Homo sapiens: one gene and its partner. The protein of the gene in region 2 interacts with the protein of the main gene of each other region in a biochemical or structural test. Each region holds a gene or a part of one and is shown on either strand. Other genes may lie near its edges.

Region 1 (4,446 bases), on a different chromosome or scaffold from region 2:
AGAGATGAGGTTTCACCACGTTGGCCAGGCTGGTCTCGAACTCCTGACCTCAGGTGATCCACCTGCCTCGGCCTCCCAAAGTGCTGGGATTACAGGCATGAGCCACTGTGCCCAGCCCTTTTTGATTTTTAATTAAAGATCTTACAATGGTCGGGTGCGGTGGCTCTTGCCTGTAATCCAAGCACTTTGGGAGGCTGAGGCGGGCGGATCACCTGAGGTCAAGAGTTTGAGACCACCCTGACCAACGTGGAGAAACCTCATCTCTACTAAAAATGCAAAATTAGTCGGGTGTGTGGCGCATGCATGTAATCCCAGCTACTCTGAGGCAGGAGAATCGCTTGGACCCGGGAGGCGGAGGTTGCGGTGAGCTCAGATGGCGCCATTGTACTCCTGTCTGGGCAACAAGAGCAAAACACAGTCTTAAAAAAAAAAAAAAATTCTTACACTTACATGCGTAGAGGTCAATTTTTAACTGGATTGGTGGCAAAAGAAGAGCTGGAAATGATGTTTAATGATACTATGATGCTTACACTGAGCCGTCTTGTTTGGGTGGTCTAAGGTAGCAGTGAATCTAAATAGTCATTGCCAGTTGAAAAACTATTAATGAACCATCTCCCTCCACATTCCCCTTTCTTTAAAACATTTAAATATTCTTAACTTAGTTGCACACTATTGATGTGATAAAAACTTATAAGCCTTTTAAGTTTAGAGTTGTATTATTTGGTAGGATGATGATTGTGATTTAATCTGCTGATCATTAGTTTACTTTTGTTTTCTGAGTCAGATGCTCACCCAGTTTTACCATGATTTTTGGAAAGCTTGGCTAGAAATAAAATAGAACATTTGCTTCTCTGTCCCCAAGCATTATGTTATTTCTTATTTCTCTTTATAATTCCCTCTCTGTCCAGGTATACCTGGTTTAAGACTTCTCATTTGTAACCTCAGTGTTCACATTTGAAACAAGAAAAGTGCATTAACATGAGAATCATTCTGGTGCAAAGATTCTCAGGATTTGTAATATCCTTAAGAATCACCCAAGGAGCTTATTGAAAATGCACATTCCTGGATTTACTCTCAAGTATGGTACCCCAGGGTCTGCATACTTCACAAGCGTCCCTGGTGGTTTTAGGGCAAGTGGTGAAAAAAGTACACTTGGAGAAACTATTCTAGAGTTGTAGACTAGACTAGGGAATAAAGAAACATAAATGTCCTTCATTCCTGAGCACTAACCCCGCCATTATGTGAATGCATATTAATGGATACTTAATCACATTGAATTACAGTATGCAGATTTTATTAAGAACATGTCTACCTCTTATTCTGATGCTGTGAATGTCTACCACAATGAGAAAGTAATTTTAAAATCATTTCTATTTGTGTAAGAGAAACCCGAGTTTGAGGACCTTATTTTATTCTACGCTGTTTAGATTTGTATCCTCTGGTAATTTAGTGGCATTAGTCACCTGCTAATTAATCTTTTTCCTTTCCCCTGTGTTCCATATAGAGAAAAGTGGTAAAGAATCTACCTCACTGGGAATGTCATCATTACCAACTTCAGATGGGTTTAACCATCCCGCCCGTTCTTCAGGACAGAGTCCTGATGTTGGTAATCCTATGAGTCTTGCTCGCTCTGTCTCTGCTTCAGTCTGCCCTATCAAGCCCAGTGACTCAGATCGCATTGAACCTAAAGCTGTGAAGGCTTTGAAGGCTTCAGCTGAATTCCAGCTAAACTCTGAAAAGAAAGAACATCTTTCTTTACAAGATCTTTCTGATCATGCTTCCTCAGCAGACCATGCTCCAACAGACCAGAGTCCAGCTATGCCTATGCAGAATTCATCCGAAGAAATAACTGTTGCAGGTAATCTGGAGAAATCTGCTGAAAGAAGCACCCAGGGCCTCAAATTTCATCTCCATACAAGACAGGAAGCTAGTTTATCTGTCACATCTACTAGGATGCATGAACCACAGATGTTTCTAGGTGAAAAGGATTGGCATCCAGAAAATCAGAACCTGAGTCAAGTGAGTGACCCTCAGCAGCACGAAGAACCAGGGAATGAACAGTATGAGGTTGCACAACAAAAAGCTTCACATGACCAAGAATATCTTTGTAACATAGGGGACCTTGAGCTTCCTGAAGAAAGGCAACAGAATCAACACAAAATTGTTGATTTGGAAGCTACGATGAAAGGAAATGGGCTCCCACAGAATGTGGATCCTCCAAGTGCGAAGAAAAGTATTCCATCTTCAGAATGCAGTGGCTGCTCAAATTCAGAAACATTTATGGAAATCGATACAGCTCAACAGTCCCTAGTTACTTTGCTTAATTCAACAGGCAGGCAGAATGCCAATGTCAAGAACATTGGTGCATTGGATCTCACTTTAGATAATCCCTTGATGGAAGTAGAAACATCAAAATGTAACCCTTCATCTGAAATTTTGAATGATTCCATTTCCACTCAGGATTTACAGCCCCCAGAAACTAATGTTGAAATACCTGGAACAAATAAAGAATATGGCCATTACTCCTCTCCAAGTCTCTGTGGCAGTTGTCAGCCTTCTGTGGAGTCAGCAGAAGAATCTTGCCCGTCTATAACGGCAGCCTTGAAAGAACTTCATGAACTTTTGGTTGTTAGCAGTAAACCAGCTTCAGAAAATACATCTGAAGAAGTAATCTGTCAATCAGAAACCATAGCTGAGGGCCAAACCAGTATTAAAGACCTTTCTGAAAGATGGACCCAAAATGAGCATCTTACCCAGAATGAACAGTGTCCACAAGTCTCCTTTCATCAGGCCATATCTGTATCAGTGGAGACAGAAAAATTAACAGGTACTTCATCTGACACTGGAAGAGAAGCTGTAGAAAATGTAAACTTCAGGAGTCTAGGTGATGGCCTGTCAACCGATAAGGAAGGTGTCCCCAAATCTAGGGAATCCATAAATAAGAACCGTTCTGTCACTGTAACCTCAGCTAAAACATCCAATCAGTTACACTGCACCTTAGGTGTAGAAATTTCACCCAAACTTTTAGCAGGTGAGGAGGATGCACTCAATCAGACTTCTGAGCAAACTAAGTCTTTGTCATCCAATTTCATATTGGTTAAAGACTTAGGTCAGGGCATACAGAATTCAGTAACAGACAGGCCTGAAACCAGAGAAAATGTCTGTCCTGATGCTTCGAGGCCATTACTTGAATATGAACCACCTACCAGCCATCCATCATCAAGTCCTGCCATTCTTCCACCATTGATTTTTCCTGCCACAGATATTGACCGCATTCTCCGTGCTGGCTTTACTTTGCAGGAAGCTCTTGGAGCTTTGCATCGAGTTGGTGGGAATGCAGACCTTGCACTTCTTGTTTTGCTCGCAAAAAACATCGTAGTTCCTACATGACTGTGGGAAAGTGGGCTAGACCGTTCTCCATTCCCTTTAAACAAAAGAAAGCTCTCTCTATATACACGCACACATACACACTCACCACATATACAGTATATATAGAAACCTGCAAGCAGAATGTTGAGCCAGATTTTTTTTAAAGATTTTTTTCGGCCAAAGTAATTTATGATCTTTTGTCTGATGAATTTGTCTATCCTACTTGTTAAAATTTAGGCCTTTTTAAATGTATTGGCAGTATGTGCATACAGAAGCTTTTTATTCTCATTAAGATGTATCCTGGAATAAAATGGATGGTTTTGTGTGTAGCATACTGTTTTAGAATGAGAGTAAATGCTTTGAAAAGCAGAAGCCATGAGAAATCCCACTACCCATCCAGCTAAAAACAGATGAACTCTCCACACTGTGACTGTGTGTCTGTGCTGATGGCAAGGTATGGTTTGCTGGCTCAGTTGTCAATTTAGAAACTTTTGACCACATAATTTGGTGTTTGGAATTCTACCCAGTGCTCTGTGTATCATGATTCATTAATTATAACAGGAAATTGGAGAATAATTGAATATCTTATCGTAGAGTGGTATGTTTTTATTTGTGTGCTTAGGATTTGACATTTTAATAGGGCGAGCAGGAGGGTTTAAATCTTGGGCTACTTTGTGCATCACAGGCTGCTGCATGGATTGCCATGAATCCTTATTACATTGGATGGGATATTGTGGGGGAGTTACAATGCAAGTGAAACGTGGTGCTACCCAGATTCTTAAAAGAACAGAACAACCATAATTCCATTTGCAGATGTCAAGAACTGTGAGGGAAAAATAATGGCCTAAACACTGGAATTTGCTAGAGTTTGGGTTTGCTAGCATCTCACTGATAACACCTCAACCCTTAATGACTAATGGTGGAATTAAGTTCAGGAATGGATTCATTGCCAGCAGCTTATTTCCTTTCTAGACTCTTCTGCCAGGAAGTTCTTCAAACGCTCAGTGTGAGCTGTGATCTGAGTGAAATACTAAGTGTGATAACCTTGTCACTGGTTAATCTTGGTGCTTGGAACGG
Region 2 (4,537 bases):
CAAAAAAATCTAGCATGCAAGTTTCAGAAGCTTATCTGCACTTAGCTCACTGATATGGAAAAAAGTCTTATAATGGTCTGATTTATTTCAGAGCAGTTTCAGTTCCTTAGAAACTTAAAATAGCATTATAGACTTTTTTATTTTTTTTGAGACAGAGTCTCACGCTGTCACCCAGGCTGGAGTGCAGCGGTGCAATCTTGGCTCACTGCAACCTCTGCCTCCCGGGTTCAAGCGATTCTCCTGCCTCAGCCTCCCCAGCAGCTGGGATTACAGGCGCCTGCCACCATGCCCGGCTAATTTTTGTGTTTTTAGTAGAGACAGGATTTCACCACGTTGTCCAGGTGGGTCTCAAACTCCTGACCCCAGGTGATCCACCCGCCTCGGTCTTCCAAAGTGCTGGGATTACATTATAGCCTTTATACACAGCCATACAAACATTTCCTACTTCCACTAAGTCTTAGAATGATTTTTACTGACCAACAGGCATCATGGAAATGTCTGGAGCATTTGAGATTTTACGAGTTAATTTTCATGTATTAGCTGGGTATATACTTCTTAAAAACTGTAATCTTCAAGTCAACTTATCACATTGTATTACAGTTGCTGTTACCTGATCAGAATTCAGTATTTTTTTTTTTTTTTTTTGAGACAGAGTTTTACTCTTGTTGCCCAGGCTGGAGTGCAATGGCATGATCTCGGCTCACCTCAACCTCCGCCTCCTGGGTTCAAGCGATTCTCCTGCCTCAGTCTCCCGAGTAGCTGGGATTACCGGCATGTGCCACCACACCCGGGGCCTGGCTAATTTTATATTTTTAGTGGAGATGGCGTTTCTCCATGTTAGTCAGGCTGGTCTCCAACTCCCGACCTCAGGTGATCCGCCTGCCTCAGCCTCCCAAAGTGTTGGGATTACAGGCGTGAGCCACCACGCCCGGCTAGAACTCAGTATTCTTAAACCAGCGTTGCCTACCAAGTTTAGCAATTCCGGGAATGCCAACTGTCCTTACAGTCACTCTCGTATTTGCTTAGCTATGAGAATAATTTGGGGCTAACTTCACCAAAAAAGAAAAACAAGCAAGAACATCACTCTAGTAACAATAAAAGCCACTGTATTTTGCTTTCATCAAATGTGGCACCTTGTGAACCAGCTTTCTTAAAATTATTTATTTTAACCTTTAAAAATTTCTGCCAGGTAGAGCTTTCTTCTTTTCCACTGTGCAACCCACTTCAGTGCCAGCAGCCTACGGGCACAGAGGCCAGGCAATGGTTCGGGGACACAGTTTGCTCTGGCATGGGGTACTATGACAGGCCCAGGGTGACGGGCCTGTCATAAATCCAAACCCATGCATAGAATTTGCTTTAAAGCTCTATCTATTGTGACTGCTTGGCATTGTCAACCTCCGAAGTTGCCTAAATCACCCCTCGGAGAAGGGAAGAGAGTAACAACGCTAGCAAAACCATTTTTGTTACAGACATGGTTATATATTTTTGTTTATATGAAGAATATTTACAATTTAATAATAAATAGGCTCATGCAGTCTCGGACTGGGTCATTTGAGGCCTTATTAAATATTTTTAAGGCAATGTTCAGGCCTAAACTTGGAAAGTTTTGATTTCTTTTTAATACGCCAATACTTTTTTGCTTTTCTGTATCTTTTAAGGCGTTACTTAAGTAACTTACTTGAATATATTTTACTGAAGAACACCTTTCGGTCTTTCTGTAACAGCTAAGTTATTTAAAATGGTCAATCAATTAGCACAAGAGGATAATGTTAGAAGAGATAGGGGCTAATTCAAACAAACTTTGAAAAAAATTTCACAAATCAATTAAAGTCTGCCCAATTTTATGTTTAAACAAAGTCAGCCAACACATTCTTTGTCCTCCCCAGACATTCCTGAGAGGTTCTGCCTTCTACACTTTCACCAATTATTTCGACTTCGCAAACAGCACAATCAGCCTTTTCTGCAAACCTTAGGGCTGTCTCCCCTGTGTATGTCCGTTCATCTAAGCCAAGCTTTTCCGAAATCACCGAGTCATTCACAGTCCTTAAATAAACACCTCTAAGTCATGGCCGAGCATCTAATATCACAGCTACTACAGCAAGACTATCTTAGCTCTACCCACTCTCGCGGGTTTCCAAATTGGTGTCATCTGCTCTGTAGACACAGCGAAAATAAAAACTGGAAGGAAACTGAAGGCGCCAAGGCCGGGGCCCGCTCGTCTGTACCAAGGCGAGCCCGGGCTCTGCGCCCCTGCACCTGCTGCGCGGCCGCCAGGGCCTCCCCAACGGCTCCCCGGCCAGCGCGCGGCCGCCGAAGGGTTGGGAAAGAGGCCGGCGCGGGGCCGCAGGGTCTCCGGGTGGGTCTCCCCTAGGCCCCTCCAGCCCCGAGCTGTGAAGACGGGGGCAGAACGAGGCGCCCGGATCACCCTTATCCAGCCGCGGGAGAACCCCGGGCCGGGAGGAAGCGGCGCCTCAAGGTCGTGGCCCGCTCGGCGACCACGTGTCTCCGCAGGCCGGCGAGGCGCGCCGCACACGTGCCCGGGGCCCGGGGCCCGCAGCCCGCCCCGGCTCCCGCCCTCGCTCCCTCCCTTCCTCCGCGGCCGGGGAGTCCCTCACCTCAGAGCGCCCAGGCGCCGCAGGCCAGCCCCATGGGGAAGCGCAGACGCCGGAGCCTGAGTCGCAGCCGCAGGAGCGCTCGGCCGCCCCCGCCGCGCCCGTCAGCGCCTGGCTCCCGCCCGCCGGAGACGCCGGCCCGAGGTGGCGCCGGAGCTGCTGGCAGAGGGGCGGCGGGCGGCGGCGGCGGCGGCTACAGGAGGGACTGACAAAGCCCCACGGCACGCCGCTCCCTACTTATAGCACCGGCGGGTCGCCATGGAGACGCACCAGCTCAAACCAGCCACGATCGGTTCCGGCCGGGACACCGCCGGGGGAGGGGCGGGGGCCCGGCGGTGGCCAACCCGGGCCCGCGCGGAGCTGGTGGGGCGCCGGCGGGCCGACGTCAGCCGAGCCGAGCACCGCCTGCCCCACGCGTGGCCCCCGCCCCCGGCTTCGCGCCCCGCCCTCCCCGCCCTGCGGCCGCCTCTCCCCGCCCTCCCCGCCCTGCGGCCGCCTCGCCCCGCCCCGCCCTGCGGCGGTCTCGCCCGCCTGGAACTGGTCCGCGCACGCGCACGACGCCGCAGGCCCCGGCCCCGGCCCGCGGCAGCTGAACGGCAGAGCCTGTAGCTGCACAGCTGTGCTTCCACCTGGCGTTCAGTACCTCGTGCCCGAGAGCGGAAAAGGGAAATCGCGAGCGGAGGACCGATGTGCTGGCCACGTGGGCCCCGCCGGGCCGACTCCGGACCCTGCTGCCGCCCATTCCTCCGGTGCAAGGGACCTGGAAGTGATCCCGGTGCCGCTCTGCTCCCACCAGCTAGGGAGCAGAGGCGCGGGAGGGAAGGGGCGTCCCGGGGGTCGCCAGCACGCTGCGGGCAGGGCTGGCAGCCGCCTCCACGCCCCCGCGCTGGAAGCCTCGTCTTTGTAACATCGAGGTATCCTGTAACTAGATGGGTCCTGGCCTGCGGAGGTAGTTTCCCCTGTGAAGCCAGGGACTCAGCCAGGAGCGTGAGGGGACCCGGATCCTGAGTCTCCAAGCCGCCCACTACCCTCTGCTTTACCGGATGGAACTCATCAGTAACTAGGTATCTTTAAGGGCGGCTCCCTGGCGCGCTCTGAGAGTTACGGAAGTCCCAAAATGCTTTGACCGAAAACGTCTAAACAGTGAATACATAAAGCAAAAAGCCGCGTGGGAAATTCGAGTCCCTAGGAGCGCCCAGGGGACGCCTCTGGAGGTGGACTGCCACTCACTCCAGGCCACGCTGGAATGCCCGCACCAGGGAGGCACTGCACTTGAATTGGGGACACTTTTTTTTTTTTTTTTCATTTTTACCTTTCATTCCCTTTTGGACAATCCAGACAGGATATGTCTCTCCCTAGGGTGGGGATTTCGACTCCTTAGGGTGGGAGTACAGCCGATGAAGAGTTAAGGAGAGGAGTGGGTAGATCTAGATCTAGCCTTGGGTGGGTGGGGGCGGGGTTGGAGGAGCTCAGAGCACTGGCCCAGCGCTGCCCCCAACTTGCTGTGTGCTCTTGGACAAGTTATCTCCCTTCTCTGGGCTTCAGATAACCCAAGGATCCTTACATATCTTTATAGCTACAAAGCCCTGTGAGGTTTTGAAAAACTTCCTTGGTACCCAAAACCAGGTCTGAGGCACAGTCAGTGAATACCTGTTTAATGAATGCATGCATAAATGAATGAATGGATGATCCAGCTCTTCCTGGAGCAGGCACGACTTCCACAGAAACAGAGCAAACGCTAGCCGTAAGCAGAAGTGAGTCTTCTTCCTATGTGAAGGGATGTGGGGGTGGTACGCCCCTATCAACTTTATCTTTACATAGTCCTTGAGCGCCCACCGGGCACCGTGTTCCCCGGACTAGAGGGAGGGAGAGGGGGGTTAGCTCCACCCTTAACAAGCTTAATTCTTGATGAGATTAACCATCAA

What was found.
Region 1: the proteins of ODC1 (region 2) and RSC1A1 form a complex in vitro, tested with the Homo sapiens proteins (one study listed by BioGRID).

What each region holds. Positions count from the first base shown.
Region 1 is NC_000001.11:15,658,333-15,662,778, forward strand, and holds RSC1A1 (regulatory solute carrier protein family 1 member 1), read left to right. Parts: upstream 1-1,380; 5' UTR 1,381-1,536; coding exon 1,537-3,390; 3' UTR 3,391-3,701; downstream 3,702-4,446. UniProt on the Homo sapiens protein: Mediates transcriptional and post-transcriptional regulation of SLC5A1. Inhibits a dynamin and PKC-dependent exocytotic pathway of SLC5A1. Also involved in transcriptional regulation of SLC22A2.
Region 2 is NC_000002.12:10,445,506-10,450,042, forward strand, and holds the start of ODC1 (ornithine decarboxylase), read right to left. Parts: upstream 2,823-4,537; 5' UTR 2,616-2,822; intron 2,508-2,615; exon of another isoform or gene 1,969-2,507; intron 1,345-1,968; exon of another isoform or gene 1,209-1,344; intron 1-1,208. UniProt on the Homo sapiens protein: Catalyzes the first and rate-limiting step of polyamine biosynthesis that converts ornithine into putrescine, which is the precursor for the polyamines, spermidine and spermine.